Linked DNA regions of Homo sapiens: all the other regions are reported to be linked to region 2. Evidence: microRNA targets listed by miRTarBase, many of them from high-throughput screens and not tested one by one. Region 2 holds a microRNA gene; each other region holds the end of a gene's coding sequence.
What was found. Region 2 holds the annotated microRNA hsa-miR-4733-3p (CCACCAGGUCUAGCAUUGGGAU, at 3,575-3,596, shown strand). A microRNA usually pairs through its seed, bases 2 to 8, with sites in the 3' UTR of a target mRNA and lowers its output. Matches are read on the target gene's strand: a 7mer-m8 pairs with bases 2 to 8, a 7mer-A1 pairs with bases 2 to 7 and ends in A, and an 8mer does both.

Region 1: miRTarBase lists REPIN1 as a target of hsa-miR-4733-3p. Seed matches in the 3' UTR shown: 7mer-A1 at 3,581-3,587.
Region 3: the mRNA of MOCOS is a reported target of hsa-miR-4733-3p. Seed matches in the 3' UTR shown: 8mer at 2,454-2,461.

Annotation. Positions count from the first base shown.
Region 1 is chr7:150,372,139-150,377,359 of GRCh38, reverse strand. REPIN1 (replication initiator 1) reads right to left here. Exons shown (of 3, transcript NM_001099695.2): 3 at 3,321-5,221. The coding sequence ends at 4,415. It overlaps REPIN1-AS1 (REPIN1 antisense RNA 1), which reads left to right and starts at 4,417. Exons shown (of 4, transcript NR_183429.1): 1 at 4,417-4,519. RefSeq lists enhancers at 3,693-3,842, 3,903-4,022.
Region 2 is chr17:31,092,733-31,097,953 of GRCh38, reverse strand. It overlaps MIR4733 (microRNA 4733), which reads left to right and starts at 3,529; the gene lies at 3,529-3,604. NF1 (neurofibromin 1) reads right to left here and starts at 2,977. Exons shown (of 58, transcript NM_001042492.3): 1 at 2,585-2,977. The coding sequence starts at 2,644. MIR4733HG (MIR4733 host gene) reads left to right here and starts at 2,464. Exons shown (of 4, transcript NR_186435.1): 1 at 2,464-2,727; 2 at 4,463-4,581. LOC124903974 (a long non-coding RNA gene) reads right to left here. Exons shown (of 2, transcript XR_007065704.1): 2 at 4,827-5,078. RefSeq lists silencers at 2,573-2,622, 2,663-2,732, cis regulatory regions at 2,588-2,898, 3,125-3,364, an enhancer at 2,967-2,984 and a promoter at 2,972-3,397.
Region 3 is chr18:36,267,925-36,273,145 of GRCh38, reverse strand. MOCOS (molybdenum cofactor sulfurase) reads right to left here. Exons shown (of 15, transcript NM_017947.4): 15 at 989-4,613. The coding sequence ends at 4,461. Among named protein-coding and RNA genes, the nearest start is that of FHOD3, 27 kb to the left of the region's middle.

The DNA of each region.
Region 1 (5,221 bases), not on the chromosome of region 2:
TTGTTTTTCAGAAATTAGGACCCCCACCGGTGGGGGTCACTTCCACTCTCTGGGCCTGTTTCCTTCTTACAGAGCAGACTTCCTCCAGATTGGCATCCCATGACCAAGGGTATTTCAGAGGTGGAAAGAATGGAGAACCTCTGGGATCCTATTTCCACTAAGAAAAAAAATACCAGGGGGAGAGGCTGCATATGTGTTTGCAAATACACAGGAAAAAAGTGTTAGGAGAATACTCCTCAAACTTTTCTCAGTGTAAACAAAAAGGATTTTGAGAGTGGAATAGGGGAATGAAGGAGAACGTTCACATTATTATCTGAATTATTTATTTTTAAAGATAATTTAATGCTTTTGTAATTGTAGAAGAAAACAAAGAAAAACTGTGGATTCTTCAGAAGAGATGGGCAGCTCCTGCCAGCAGACCCCTACAACCCAGGCAGTCCTCCCCAGTGACTGCTGTGGTGATGAACCAGGCAGAGCAAGGGCTTGAGAACCACTGGGCCACCCACCAAGGGACTCAGGAAGGAACCAGGCACAATTTGACTCTGTTCCTGCTTTACCAGCCCCCTCAAGGCCACTTGTGTGACCTTTCCGTCCTTTGGACCTCTCTTTCCCATCCCCATAACAAGCAGTGGGCAGTGAAGCACTGACGACACCCACACCCCGCTTTCCCCATATCCCAGACTATTTCCTTTAAACGGGACTTTTCAAAAGGTTAGGACCCCTGGTCAGATCCCCTCTCACCCTCATCCTTGTCCCTAACGGCTCCAATACTAACCTAGGTGCCAACCCAAGGACCCGCCCCTGCTCCCTGCCCATCATTTCCAGACATCGACCTACTCTTTCCTGGCCATCTCCCCTTCCCTGGAAACCCTGTGTTCCCACAAAGAGAAAAAATGTGACTGGGGCTTTCTTGAGACCACGCCCTCTGCTCCCAGGCTTTGACAGATAATTTGCCATCAACTACACAGGTTTTTAAGTGGCTCCATAACCCCATAAACCAATATGAAGCTTTGAAGCTGTTCTTTCCATCCTACACACTTTAAGCCCCACCCACACAGTTGGCATTTAATACTTAACCAAAAACAGCAGCACGCAGCGTTCATCCACTAAGCACACAGCGGTTGTCAAGAGCACAGGTTTCAGGAGTCAGACAGACTTGAATTTGAATCTGCCTCTGGTGATTACCAGTTATATGACTGTGGGCAAATGTTTTCATGTATAAAAGAAGACTACCTCCCACACAAGGACACATGAGATAATTTAGGTAAACTTCACCAGGTGCCACTCACGTCAACAAATTGTGGTTATTCTTATGTGCTCTGTGCTAAATGCTGGAGATATATGCAGAAATTGCTAACACAGGCAAGAAAAGAACTATTAATGCCTGGTAAAAAGAGGTACTCAAATTTGTATGAAACCACCAATTCAGGGACGCATACAGAGTGACTGCTCACAGAAATCTGGAGTCCTACAGCAGGCCGGCCAGGGACACTGTAGGACAGAATCAAATCAGCCCCCTTTCCTGCCTAGCAACTAGCACCTGAAAAGTCTGACCTGACCTTGAGATGGAGCAGAGACCCTCTTTTTTAATTTTTTTTTATTTTTATTTTTTGAGACAGAGTTGTTGCCCAGGCTGGGGTGCCATGGCGCGATCTCGGCTCACTGCAACTTCTGCCTCCTGGGTTCAAGTGATTCTCCTGCCTCAGCCTGCCGAGTAGCTGGGATTACAGGCATGCACCACCATGCCCGGCTAATTTTGTATTTTTAGTAGAGACAGGGTTTCTCCATGTTGGTCAGGCTGGTCTCAAACTCCTAACCTCAGGTGATCCACCTGCCTCGGCCTCCCAAAGTGCTGGGATTACAGGCGTGAGCCACCACGCCCAGCCTCAGAGACTCCACTTAGGAGCCTGCTGGGTTCTGCCCATCACTTGAAAAGCATGAGAATAAACAAAAATGTGAGTCCCTCCCAGGGAAATTCCAGGCACCTAGCTAGCTCTACAACCATGAATTGGGGAAATGAATGAATAACCCGCTAAGCAAGAAAGTAATAATAGCTTAAACAATAGTCACTCAAGTAGTAGTCACAGAATGTTAGCTTCCTCATAGAAACTAAAGATAACATCTTTTTGTTTGTTTTGTTTTTTGGGTTGTTTGTTTGTTTTGAGACAAAGTCTTACTCTGTTGCCCAGGCTGGAATGCAGTGGCACGATCTCAGCTCATTGCAACCTCCGCCTCCCAGGTTCAAGCAATTCTCCTGCTTCAGCCTCCCTAGTAGCTGGGACTACAGGGGCCCGCCACCACACCCAGCTAATTTTGTATTTTTAGTAGAGATGGGGTTTCACCATGTTGGCCAGGCTGGTCTTGAACTCCTGACCTCAGGTGATCCACCCACCTCGGCCTCCCAAAGTGCCGGGATTACAGGCATGAGCCACCATGCCTGGCCTAAAGATAACATCTTGACATATATCCTTGAGTTGTTTTTCAGGAGCCAGGACCCCCACCAATGTCACCACGTGACAATGCCAGCACGTAGACCTCAGACAGACTGGAACCAGAAAATGGATAAGGAAGTTCCAGAAATTCCTCAGCCCCTAACTCCCTTTGAAACCTCCCCACCCCTGCCTTAAAAACCCTTGCTTAAAAGCCATCAGGGAGTTTGAGCCTTAGCTGCCCATTCTCCTCGCCTGGTGCTCTGCAATAAACGCCTTACTTTCTCTGGCTGCAAATCTCACTGTCGGTGTTAGGCTTTGCAAACACTGGGCAAGTGGACCCAGGCTGGGTTTGACAACAACCTCAAAGAAGGCTGAAACCCTGGTGTGTGGAGTGTGGAAGCTGAGTGCTGTCTTAGCTGCAGGGAACAGCCTCCCCTCCCAGAGGCTCCTTCATCTGTCCAACCTCTGAAGGACTACTGGAGGCACAGTCCAAGTATAACCAAAGTCCGTTTAACACCCAGCACCCCTCAAAAGAGCTCATAGTGCTTGCTGTAGTTTCATAAAGGCCCAGGTGGTGAGAAAGATTAGGTGTTGCTGGGCCCATCTAGGAGGGCAAGTGACCAAGAACATAAATCTTGGGACCAAGCTGAGAGCATTCCACCCACCACAGTTCTCTGGAGCTTCGGCCCACCACCCAGAGAATTAGCCCAACTGCCTGGGTATGCTCAGGGAAGAACTGAGGCAGGGGGCCAGAGCTCAGCAAGCTGGGCATGTGGCCTGTGGCCAGAGCCCCACCCACAGCCCCCCGTCCTTCTAGGGAGGAGAGCATGCTGCTCCTCCTGACATGTCGCAGCTCCCCCAGAAAAAGTAACACTCCCCAGCCACCAGTTCTAAAACCAAATCTTTATTCTCTAGTTTGAAAAGGAGGGGTAAATGGTTGTTCTGTTTAGTTCCAGAGAACAGAACAAGGCCCAATAGGTAGAAATTATAGGAAAGCAGAATTCATTCATTATAAGGAAGGATTTCTAACAATTAGAATTTCTAACAATTAGAATCATCCAGGGCCTCAGGAGGTGCGGAAGTTCCTGTCACCTAAGTGCTCAAGCAGAGGCCAGGTGTCCATATGCTAGAAATGGAGAAAAGGAAACTCACCAGCAACTTCCCCTCAGCTGGCCCTCCATCACCAATGCGGCAGTCCTTGCCGTGACATGCTGAGCTCTGGAAGGAGCGAAGGAGGGGCTGCGGTGTTCAGACAAGAGCCTGGACACAGTGCTGCTGACAGCCAGGGGAGGCTCTCAGCGCTGGGAGGGGCGACAGATAAAGCGAGACAGACCAAGGAGTAAATGCCTTGGGATCTGCTCTTTGGGAAGGAAGAGGATGGAAGTATTAACAGCAGACGGGTCTCTCCAAGTCTGGGTGCCTACGCAGGGGGCAGGTGGGAGGGGAAGGGAGAGGTAAGAGTGGCTTCGCTTCACCTCTTGCTGCTGGCAAAGGCCCAAGTGCTGTCTAACAAGGCCAGCAGGTTCTCCAAGCTGTATCTAGCCCAGAGCATTCATTTACAGGACTCTACCACGCCTGCTTCCAAAAATGATCTTAAGTAACTTACAGTAAAAGACAGGGGCATTAAGGCGTTAATACCAGAGGATGGAGGGTCTTCCTTTCCACTGGTGGCTCCTCTAGCCAGAGGGCTCTAAGGGGCGGATGCTATTGCTGCTTTTCCAGGGCACAGGGCAGTCAGGACGGAGCCTTAGCACACACCAGCTGGAGGCCGGCGTCCCTGCGCTTGGAAGTGGGTTCCCTGGCCACCGGGGTTGACCTCTCTCGCTAGCAGGGCCCACCCAGCTCACTCCCCGCGTCTTCCATCCCCTCTAGGATTCCCATTGTCCCCTACTCCAGCACTAGGCAGGCACCCCCAGCCCACTGCGACTCCCACCACGAAGGACCCCAGCCCTCTCTCAGCCAACACGGCCCCGCCCACCGTCTCAGACATCGTGCTTCTTCTGGTGGGCCAGGAGTCTCTCCTCGTCGTCGAAGGTCTGGCCACAGATGGCACAGCAGAAGGCGCCGTCCCGGATGTGGCTCTTGCGGTGGGTGATGAGGTTGGACTTCTGGCTGAAGCTGCGGTCGCAGTCGGGACAGGCGTAGGGCCGCTCGCCCGTGTGGATGCGCCGGTGCGACACCAGGTTGGACTTCTGGCTGAAGGCTTTGCCGCAGTCGGGGCAGACGTAGGGCTTCTCGCCGGTGTGGATGCGCCGGTGCGCCGCCAGGTAGGGTTTGTGGCGGAAGGCCTTGCCGCAGTCGGGACACACGAAGGGCCGATCGGGGGCGTGGTCGCGCCGATGCGCCGCCAGATGGCTGCCCTGGGAGAAGCGGCGGCCGCACTCCTCGCAGGCGAAGGGCCGCTCGCCGGAGTGCACGCGCGAGTGCGCCACCAGGTGCGTCTTCTTGCCGAAGTTCTTCCCGCACTCGGCGCAGGTGAAGGGCCGCTCCCCGGTGTGCTGCCGCTGGTGGGCCCGCAGGAAGCGCTCCAGCCGGAAGCTCCTGCCGCAGTCGTCGCAGCTGTAGAGGGAGGGGGGGGCTTCGATCGGGTCCTGCGGGTGCTCTGGCGGGGCCCCTGGCGGCGGCTCCTGGGCCGGTTTCAGAGGTACCGCCGGGGTGGGCTCGGCCGCGGACTCCTGGGGGCCGGCTGGCAGCTGGGGGCTCCCCGGGCCGGGGGCGGCCTGGGCCGACCCCTCGGATCGCTTGTGAATCTTGCTGTGAGACAGCAGGTTGGGTTTGTGCCGGAAGCG
Region 2 (5,221 bases):
GGGGGTGGGGGGCAGATCACCTGAGGTCAGGAGTTCAAGACCAGCCTGACCAACATGGTGAAACCCCCGTCTCTACTAAAAATACAAAAATTAGCCAGGCACGATGGTGCACACCTGTAATCCCAGCTACTTGGGAGACTGAAGCAGGAGAATCACGTGAATGTGGGAAGCAGGGGTTGCAATGAACCGACATCAAGCTACTGCACTCCAGCGTGGGCGACAGAGCAAGACCTTGTCTCAAAAAAAAAAAGTGAGGAATAATCTCTCCTATATATCTTTCTCTTAATTACAACATAAGGAATGCAGAAAAATGCTGTTTTAAAAACTAATGTCCTTAATTTTTAACAGATGGTGGTGAGTTTGATTCCACAATATGCATAACAAACAACGAAGCCTTAAGGTCTTTTAAAGCTAGGGACAGAAGGAGAAACACTTTCTTGCTTTACTGGGTATATAATCAAAATCATTCCTCCTTTTTTTTTTTTTTTTTTTTTGGAGACAAGAGTCTCGCTCTGTCGCCCAGGCTAGAGTGCAGTGGTGTGATCTCAGCTCACTGCAACCTCCACCTCCCGGATTCAAGCAATTCTCCTGCCTCAGCCTCCCGAGTAGCTGGGATTACAGGCGCCCGCCACCATGCCCAGCTAATTTTTGTATTTTTAGTAGAGACGAGGTTTCTCCATGTTGGTCAGGCTGGTCTCAAACTCCTGACCTCAGGTGATCCACCTGCCTTGGCATCCCAAAGTGCTGGGATTACAGGCGTGAGCCACCGCGCCCAGCCCAAAATCATTCCTCTCTTAAGTATCTTTTTCCAATATGGCAAATAAGCCTAGAGATGAACAGGTAAGAAGTAAAAAAATAAAATTAAGAAAAAACTGAAAAAAATTTTTAATTTTTAAAATTTAAGGAGAATTGCGGCGTGGATCCTTCAATTTCCTACATCCAGATTCTGCTGTCCACAAGGTTCAGCTTTGGAAGTCTTCTATGTGCCTTTTAAATCCTTTCTTAAAATTACAGAGTCTTTTCTACCAAGTTTTAAATCTAACGCTCTATCAATAATGTAATCTTTTATATGCAGTAACATTATACTTCAGATGGATTAGTAGTTTAGTTTAGATGCCTTTGGGTCTGGAAGCATACGAATGGATAAAACAATTCCTTCAAGTCTCTGACAGCTTCATAACTCTATTTTATCTACATAGCTTCTTCTCAACTTCCTCTGTCTATTCCAAGATATTTTCCAGGTAGGTCTGAAACGCTGAGTCCCGTAAAGAAATGTTTATGCATCAAATAACAGAAGAGCTCTTCCCCCACCCCTTCAGCTCCCATAATGTTTTACCATTATATCCAGTAAACAAAATAGGTTGACTCAATCTTAAACAATTCCCCCATCACAGGAAGCCCACTGCACCCACAGCTGCAGAAAGCATCCCTTAAACCATCCCCAACTACCTACAGCAACACAAAGTTAAACCAATTTCCACTGACAAAAGGCTATGTGTGCATTTATTCTAATCAGCCCCAGGATTTATTGTGTGAAACTCAGGCGATAAAAAGTCACCTCCTCAAGCTACAAAACTTTTTTTTCATCCCAAATATTCTCAATGAAAGTTCTCTTGTCAACCAGGAGAGAGTCAAAAACAACCACAAACACTAGCAGAATGATCCGCTCCAGGACCACATCCCAGCTGGCTTTGCTCTGTTGTCGGTGGCTCTGAAGCAGTTTCTCACTTTCCTTTCACCCTTCTCCCCTTTACTCCCCAACATTCTCACTCGAGAATGCATCACATCCTCAGACCGCTGGCAAAAAAAAAAGGGGGGGGGGAAGAGACTGCAATTATCAAGGAAGGGGAAGATATTTCAGAACCACGGTTTCCACTGCAAACGGCAATAAAAAAAAAAGGCAGTCTGTGTCATCAGGATATGGGGGACGACGTTGTAGGGCATCACAAAGATGTGCAGTGAGTGTGCACTTGAAGCTCTCGGGGCAGGATGAGACGATGGAGCAGAAAGTAAGAAAACCTGTGCCTTCCTTGCTTTCTTCTGCTCTTCCCCCTCCAGGAGAGGAAGCTGAAGAAACTGGGGGAGGGGCGGAATGTTATCGTTCTCCTATTGAGGGTATATAAGACAGGCCTTAGGGTTCGCTCGTCCCCAGTTAGGAGGGTCACGGAGGGAAGAGGAAGAGAGAACCCCTAAACGTTACCCACCTCTGCTCAAAAACAAAAGTAAGGGGGTAATTATTAAATCCAGATGGCGCGCCCCTAAAGGCGCCCCCAGGTCACTCATCCCCATTTCCAAGCGGAAGGGCTGGGATAAAGGGGATGGAGGGTCGGAGGCTGGTCAGGGACAAGGCCCCACCCCCCGACTTAGGAGGGAAAGGGTGCCCAAGCTCCCAGCTGTCCCCTCCTACCCCTCACCTCCCGCCTTGGCCACCCCCACTTATCCCCCCTTCCCTTCTCTTCCCTTCCCTTCCTTTCCTCCAGAGCCTGAGGCAGCCGCGGGGGAGGCGGCCGCTCCTACCTCCCCTCACCTACTCTGTCCCCACCCCCACTCCGCTCCCACCTCCCGCCCGCCACGGGCCGGTTACCTGCTCGTCGAAGCGGCTGACCACGGCCTGGACCCATTCCACCGGCCTGTGCGCGGCCATGTCCTCCCCGCGGCCGGGGGGCGGCGGAGGGAAGGGTGGGCCGGCGCCCTGGGCCGGGAAGAGGGCGGGGAGCGGAGGCTGAGGTGAGGGAAGAGGCAAGGAGAGGGTCTGTGGAGTGCAGGCTCCCAGTGTTCCCACGGGGGTGGGGATGGGGGGTCAGCGCCGAGCGGGAGGGGGAGAGGGAAAGGGGGCGTTGGCAAGGAGGCTGGGGGGAGGGGGATAGGGGAAGGGGACCCGGGGAGGGGAGGGGGCCTCTTGGTCGCTCTCCCCACTAGCGCCGTCTCCCCACAGCCATCACAGTCCGAGACGCCGCCATGACACCCCACCGGAAGTGGGATCCTTTCCACGGCCCGGGGAGAGGGAGCGCGAGCGAGCTAGAGATTGAGAGCGCGGCTGGGAAAGGGGAGGGGGAAGCGAGAGGGAAGGCGGCCTGCCGCGCATGCGCCCGCGCCGGCCGGTTTCATTAATGAAAAAGCGAGTCCTCCTGGAGGTGACGTCATCTAACTCCTCTGGGCCGTCTGGCGAGCGTCCCTCACCGCCGTGGGGCTCACCTAGACTGGCGCTGGGCTCAGCTGGCGAGTGCCAGAGCTGACCCGGGAGCATCCACTCCCATCCCCACCGCCCCCTACAGCTGTCCCCTCCCCCGCCGGCCTCCGGGTTTGGATTGCTCCCGGAGTTGGAAGTTAGGGCGCCCTGGGGCTAGCCTTTCTCCCAGCGCGCGGATCTCTGCCGCTAATCTCCTGGGGAGGCTGTGCTCTCAGCTTAAGCTCTCAGAAAAAATAAGGTACACGACCTCCGATTTTCAGGTTCTTCGTAGCTTGGTAGACTGCTGAGAAACAAAAAAGGAAGGCCAAAGAGAGATTCCGTGATTTTTTTTTTTTAGAGGTCGCTTAAATCCCAATGCTAGACCCGGTGGCAATCAAGGTCTAGCCACCAGGTCTAGCATTGGGATTTAAGCCCAGCTTTCCTCTGCAAAACTCATAGCCATCCAAGTTAATATAACTATTGCACAGTTGATGAGAGATTCAAGTTTCACCACCCTCAAAACACCTTTAAGGCCTTGCATTCATTATTAATTCAATATATTCATCGTCTTATTTAAATCCTTGAACAAACCTTTTCAATACATATCATTAACTTCATGAACTGATGAATACGTCACGTCCCCACCCCCGTGGGAACGCTGGGAGCCTGCACTCCTCCCTCAGACCTTTGATTTGCCCAAGGTCTGAGTTGACAGGTGGCAAAGTCAGGATGTAAACCAACGTGGTTTAACTCCTAGAACAATAGAGGTAGACTATGGGTCTCCTAAAACAAAGTCCTTCCCTATACCTCCAATACCAGAGTTGAAAGGATTTCATGTGTAATTGGGTTGTGCCAGTTTTCCAGGAAGAGGATTACATCCAAAACAACGGATAATCTATGTCTGACATTGGACTTTGGAATGACTAATTTTTTTTTTTTTTTTTTAAGACAGAGTCTCACCCTGTCACCCAGGCTGGAGTGCAGAGGCGCGATCTCGGCTCACTGCAACCTCCGCCTCCCGGTTGAAGTGATTCTTCTGCCTCAGCCTCCCGAGTAGCTGGGACTACAGGCATGCGCCACCACAGCCGGCTAATTTTTGTATTTTTAGTAGAGACGGTGTTTCACCATATTGGCCAGGCTGGTCTTGAACTCCTGACCTCATGATCCGCCCACCTCAGCCTCCCAAAGTACTGGGATTACAGGTGTGAGCCACCGCACCTGGCCTGGAATGAGTAATTTTAAAATTTGTCTTCCTCGATACATTTTACCTAGGCAAATGTTTTTGTTTTTCAGAGACAAGGTCTGACTCTGTGCAGTGGAGTGCAGTGGCTCAATCATAGCTCACTCCAGCCTCAGACTCCTGGGCCGAAGTGATCCTCCCACCTCAAGCTCCTGAATAGCTGGGACTACAGGTGAGTGTCACCCTGCTTTGGCTAATTTTTTTTTTTTTTTTTTTTTTGGTAGAGACACAGTCTTGCTATGTTGCCCAGGCTGGTCTGGAACTCCTGGCCTCAAGTGATCCCCCTGCCTTGGCCTCCCAAAGTGCTGGGATGACAGGGGTGAGCTACCACACAGGCCCCTAGGCCAATGTTAAAATGAATTTACACATTCCAAGCACGCGCTAATCAGCCAGTTAAGCCACACAGACACTGGGTGATAAGGGAGAACAAAACTAGAATTTTAATTTTCCTACAGAAAAGCCACAAAGCCAGTAGCCCACATACAGAGAGATATATCCTTGAGAAAAGTTTCCAATCTCTAGGTTGGTGGTTGTCCAAAATACATATTAAATTAATGTTTTATTCCACTAGAACAGACAGACAGTTTGGACATGTCTTTTGTCCCTTCTTCTTTAAGGATGCAATGCAGATACTAATTTCTTTTAGATGATGTCAGAATGATGACTATGCTGGAAAGAAATGGATGAATATTAAATGAATGTCTATCTATGTTTCTCCCAAGTAGGACCCCTGAAAAAGCACTCACTCATACCCCCAAGATAGTATTCCAGTGCCCCCTACTGCACTGCTAAACTTCAGACCTATGACCTTC
Region 3 (5,221 bases), not on the chromosome of region 2:
CATGCCCGGCTAATTTTTTGTATTTTTTAGTAGAGACGGGGTTTCACCGTGTTAGCCAGGATGATCTCGATCTCCTGACCTCGTGATCCGCCCACCTCGGCCTCCCATGTTTCCCCCTTTTGAAGATACCAGCATGCTCAGATTCAAATTTTAGGTCCACCTCTGACAAAATGCCTAGAATGTTATCATGTGACCCCACTCTGTTTATTGTATACATATTTTCCCTCCCCTCAAATGTTGTTTCTCCCTATTAAGGGGTTGTTATACTCCCAATAAATATATAAACCTACTATGTACCCACAAAAATTAAAAAATAAAAATTTAGAGGAAAAAAGATATTGTTATAGTACTAGATATACTTTTGCAGGCCCACATTTTAAAAAATGAATAAAGGTGAGAATAACTCAAAATTTAGTAGCTGTAATAAGAGAAAAAAATAGCTTGCTTTCTGAAAAAGCTACAAGGAAAATACAATTCATAAGTTCCAGACAACACCACCAGCTACCAACATAACAAATCTTTCAGCCTAAGGGCAGGTCCCTTCTCTCATCCATCTGCCTTTGGCGTAGTTACAATGACAGAGATGGTACCTCAGCAGGCTGGCACCTTTTCTTGCTCAATGTTTGCTTTTAATTTTTATTTCATTTTTTAAAAATTTTTATTTTTTTGAGACGGAGTCTCACTCTGTCACCCAGGCCGCTGTGCAGTGGCAGGATTTCCGCTGACTTCAACCTCCGCCTCCCAGGGATCAAGCAATTCTCCTGCCTCAGCCTCCCGAGTAGCTGGGATTACTAGTGCACACGACCATGCCTGGCTAATTTTTATATTTTTAGTAGAGATGGGGTTTCGCCATGTTGGCAAGGCTGGTCTCGAACTCCTGACCTCAAGTGATCCACCCACCTTGGCCTCCCAAAGTGCTGGGATTACAGGCATGAGCCACCACACCTGGCCAATGTTTGCTTTTTAAACAAAGCAAAGAAAATTGAGATGAATTGTTCCAAAACGTTTTAATTATCATGAATATCATAAGTCATACAAAAAAATAAAGAATAATACAACCAACACTCATGCACCTGCCATCCTATAGCTTAAACATACTATATCACATCTGACTATTACCTAGTCTGTCTTTCCCCAATTAGTGATGCCTCTATAGTGAGATCTATAAATGTTGGTTCTGTTTCTTTTGTTTCTGAAACTCTAGAACCTGTTCAGTACATATTGAATAAAAAAGCAACTTTTCACTGAAAGAGAAGGATAAGCGGACATCTTTCAACAGCAGAAAATGTATATCACTGCCTGTTCTTCTCCATCCACAAGGCTGAGGAGGGGATGAGGCTGACTCTCAATGGGGAGAAGTCAGCACCGCCACCCTCCTTAAAGGATTCTTGATGCTCACCAAACTATGCAAAAGAAAACCTCTCTTCTGGCTAAAAGGACCATGACGCGAATGCCCAGAAAGACAAGTTATTGTCTGTTCTCACCAAGTTTTTTTAAAAAAGGACTTTTTGTGACTCTAACACCAAGGTTTGGTGTTAGAATTAAATTCAAGGGACATGACATTGTCTTTGATTTTGTTATACACTTTGAGAAGCACATAAGGCTGAACTCCAGGAGATAAGAACCAAGGAGGGGACATAAAATCATAAATGTCCATAAACTCTGAATATGAAGCCACTCTACAGATACACAAAGTACATTTTTAGCTGAAACTTCATACAAGAAATATTGAAGGTAGACACTAAAGAAAAAATGCATTTAAAATTCATTTTAAATTAATAAAATATATTTAATTAATATTCAATCAATTAATGATAAAAATAGGGGCAGCTTTAAATAGTCTGTCAACAAATTTTGAGTATTGTCTGCTGACACTAGAGATATACTGGCACAGGACTTGTCCTCATGGAGCTTACAGTCTAGTGAAAACAGATCAATGTTAAATCAGTAATTATAAGTAGATAACCAAATAATAGTGCTGTAAAGGAGAGGATCTGCATTAAAATGTCTGAAATCAAAAGCTGGGCACAGTGGCTCACACTTGTAATCCCAGAACTTTGGGAGGCTGTGGCGGGAGGATGGCTTGAGCCCAGGAATTCAAAACTAGCCTGGGCAACAAAGTGAGATGCCATCTCTACCAAAAAGAAAAAAAAGAAAAAAAAAATTAGCTGGATGTGGTGATGTGTGCCTGTAGTCCCAGCTACTTGGGAGGCTGAGGCAGGGGAATCGCTTGAGCCCAAGAGGTCAAGGCTGCAATGATCTGTGATCATGCCACTGCACTCCAGCCTGGGTGACAGAGTGAGACCCTGTCTCAAAAAAACAAAAAGCCTGAAATCAGTCATGAAAGTATCTACTGCAAAAGGTGACATAGACGTGGATAAGAAAAACATATTCTTGATGACAAAAGTGACCTAATTTTTTTTTTTTTTTTTTTGAGATGGAGTCTTGCTCTGTCACCAGGCCGGTGTGCAGTGGCATGATCTCGGCTCACTGCAACCTCCGCCTCCCGGGTTCAAGCGATTCCCCTGCCTCAGCCTCCCAAGTAGCTGGGACTACAGGTGCATGCCACCATGCCCAGCTAATTTTTTGTATTTTAGTAGAGACGGGGTTTCACCGTGTTAGCCAGGATGGTCTCGATCTCCTGACCTCATGATCTGCCCACGTCAGCCTCCCAAAGTGCTGGAATTACAGGTGTGAGCCACCGCACCTGGGCAAGTGACCTAATTTTTGTAGAGCATGCCTTCTTACTTGTTTTCCATCATAATTAATATGATGCATTTGTCAGCGGAAGGTCTTGGAAATGGGGCAATGTGCCATCTGGAAAGTTCCCTCCTGCATGAAACTGGCCTGAGTAGGTGGATAAATCCATTACTTTAGGGCATTGTTCTCCTATCAGTTAGCTGATGAGGACAAGTCCACTCATATGATGTGGCAGTGCTGAGTCTTTGAAGAGGTTGCGTTTTTAATAAACAGTTCAAAACAATAAACCCCACCCCACCCCACCTAACTTCATTTGCCTCTTCTTTCGGTGATCTCAGGAACCAGAGTCAGAGTTGTACTTTTTACCCTTAACTCTTCACAGCACGTGAGTGTGCAATCATTAGGCTCCATCTCAACAATCCTTGAGAACAGAGCACACCTCATCTTTCAAATCTCACCTAGTGCTGGGAACAACACAAAGTCCTACAAATGTGATAATGAAACAAACTGACCCTGAATCCCACAGGCTCTGAACAGATACATTAGGGAAGCCTGAGCCTGGAGCCTGCTCTCCAACTGAGCAGCAGGAGAGATGGGGTGGCACAGGCTTTCAAAAGATGCAGTGGGCTGCAGCAGGCAGACATTTGGGGGAGAAGTGACTGGAAAAATACAACCATCCAGGGGGAAGATGATGAAGGGACTGGGTTCACACATGGACAGCAGGCTTCAGAAGGACGCCAGCAGAATGAATGTGGAGTGGATGTACTCACTCTGCATTGCTCCAGAGGACAGGGTAAGACCCCAGGCTGGAAGTCATGCAGAAGCAGATAAGGCACACACAAGCTCCGCACAGGGAGAAACTTCTTAGAAACTCAGCGGGATGGGTAACTTCATTAGAGAATGAGATTTCCTCACTGGACATTTTCATCTGGAGGCTGCAGGAGCAGTGGTCAAAGATGATACAGACAGGATTCCTGAATGCCAAAGTTCCTCCCTCGATAGGATTTGGAGGCTCTCGGGTGATGGACCAACACCATCCTGTGGGCTTGTGGAGGGGAGGATGACAACCTGCATAAGCACAGCCATCACTGAGTGTAACTTCAGGCTCGTGAGCCATCCTCAGTGCATCAACTCAGTGGGGGATGAGGACGGAGGCCAGGGATGGGAAGCAACAGGAAAGGAATTGCTGGCCTGTGCCTTTGCTCAGAATATAAATATTCTGGTAGAAACTCCCCTCAAGGAATGTGGTCACAAGTTACCCTCTGGGCCCCTGAGCATAAACCCACACCATCATGTACATGGGAGGAGAGGAGCACCTTCTCATACCCAGGATCACTGGGCATAGACTCCCTTCCTCACTACAAACGGGTTGGAGAGATCCAAAGATGCTCTCTAAAAACAAAGTAACAATGTGAGAAAATGGCAAAATAGGGACCCGCAGTAAGTTCAATCTTCCCAGTGAACTTCATTAAAAATTTCATCTGATTACAAGTGATTATACTTCAAATACCTACAGGAGCCTCACTGGATGTGGGTGCAGCATTCGTTCCTGAGGCCTCAGAAGTGCTCTCCTGAGCACAGCCAGTGCAAATTTGCAGGGTGAGAAGTCAAAGGCAGAAGGAAGCAGGTGAGAGCATTCCCTGCCTCTAAAGAAAAAGAGCTCTCCTTATTCAAAACATCAAGTTCTACTGAACCAAGTTGCAGATCTTAACAATAATAGAGATCACTGTAAAAGAGAAACTTTATGCTAAAAATTTTTTTTAGGAGGTAACATCCTGGTGTTTCTCAGATGCAGGTAAATCATGACCTTCCACATTCTCTTTCAACACAGGGAGCACCTGAGATCCTACAGACAGGAAACATGGGGAGGATAAATCCAATGATGCATGCATCAGGTACATGCCAAAGTTCACCTGTGAACAAAACAGCAACAACAACAAAAAAGGCTAGATTATTTTAGCAATTAAAATAACTTTGTAAATATTAATGTTTAACTAAAATCAAGTCAGATTTTTAAAGACATATACTGAGACTTGATATCTCCTATCTGTTACACAGTAGAATGCACTGGAACATTAAGAGAATCCTAACTTTAGACCCCAAAGATTCTCATTCTAAGGCATCCTTTCCCTGTGGTCACCCCACACCTCTTTCTTGCTGGGCACATCTCTGTCCCACATGCCCTGAACTTCCTGCAGAAGGACTTTCTTCCTACTCTCAGCTTGTGACCACCATCAGGCCCATTTCCTGTTTGCTGCCTGATGTAAAAGCCTTTTGGGGAAGACAGTGGCAGAACTCTGCATTTTCCTTGAGAAAGAATGATGCAAGTTAATTTTGTCAAATTCTCCTGAATAAGGATGGAAGGTCCAAAATGAAGAGTAGGTAAGTCTGCTCAATGTTAACCATCAATGCAAGTGAACCACTCAGGACCCTTTGGAGGACTTGACATGCTCTCCGATCTGTTAGTTCTTGTGATAACATCTGTTGGACACCCTCATGTTCCAGGCCCCAGGCTAGGGGA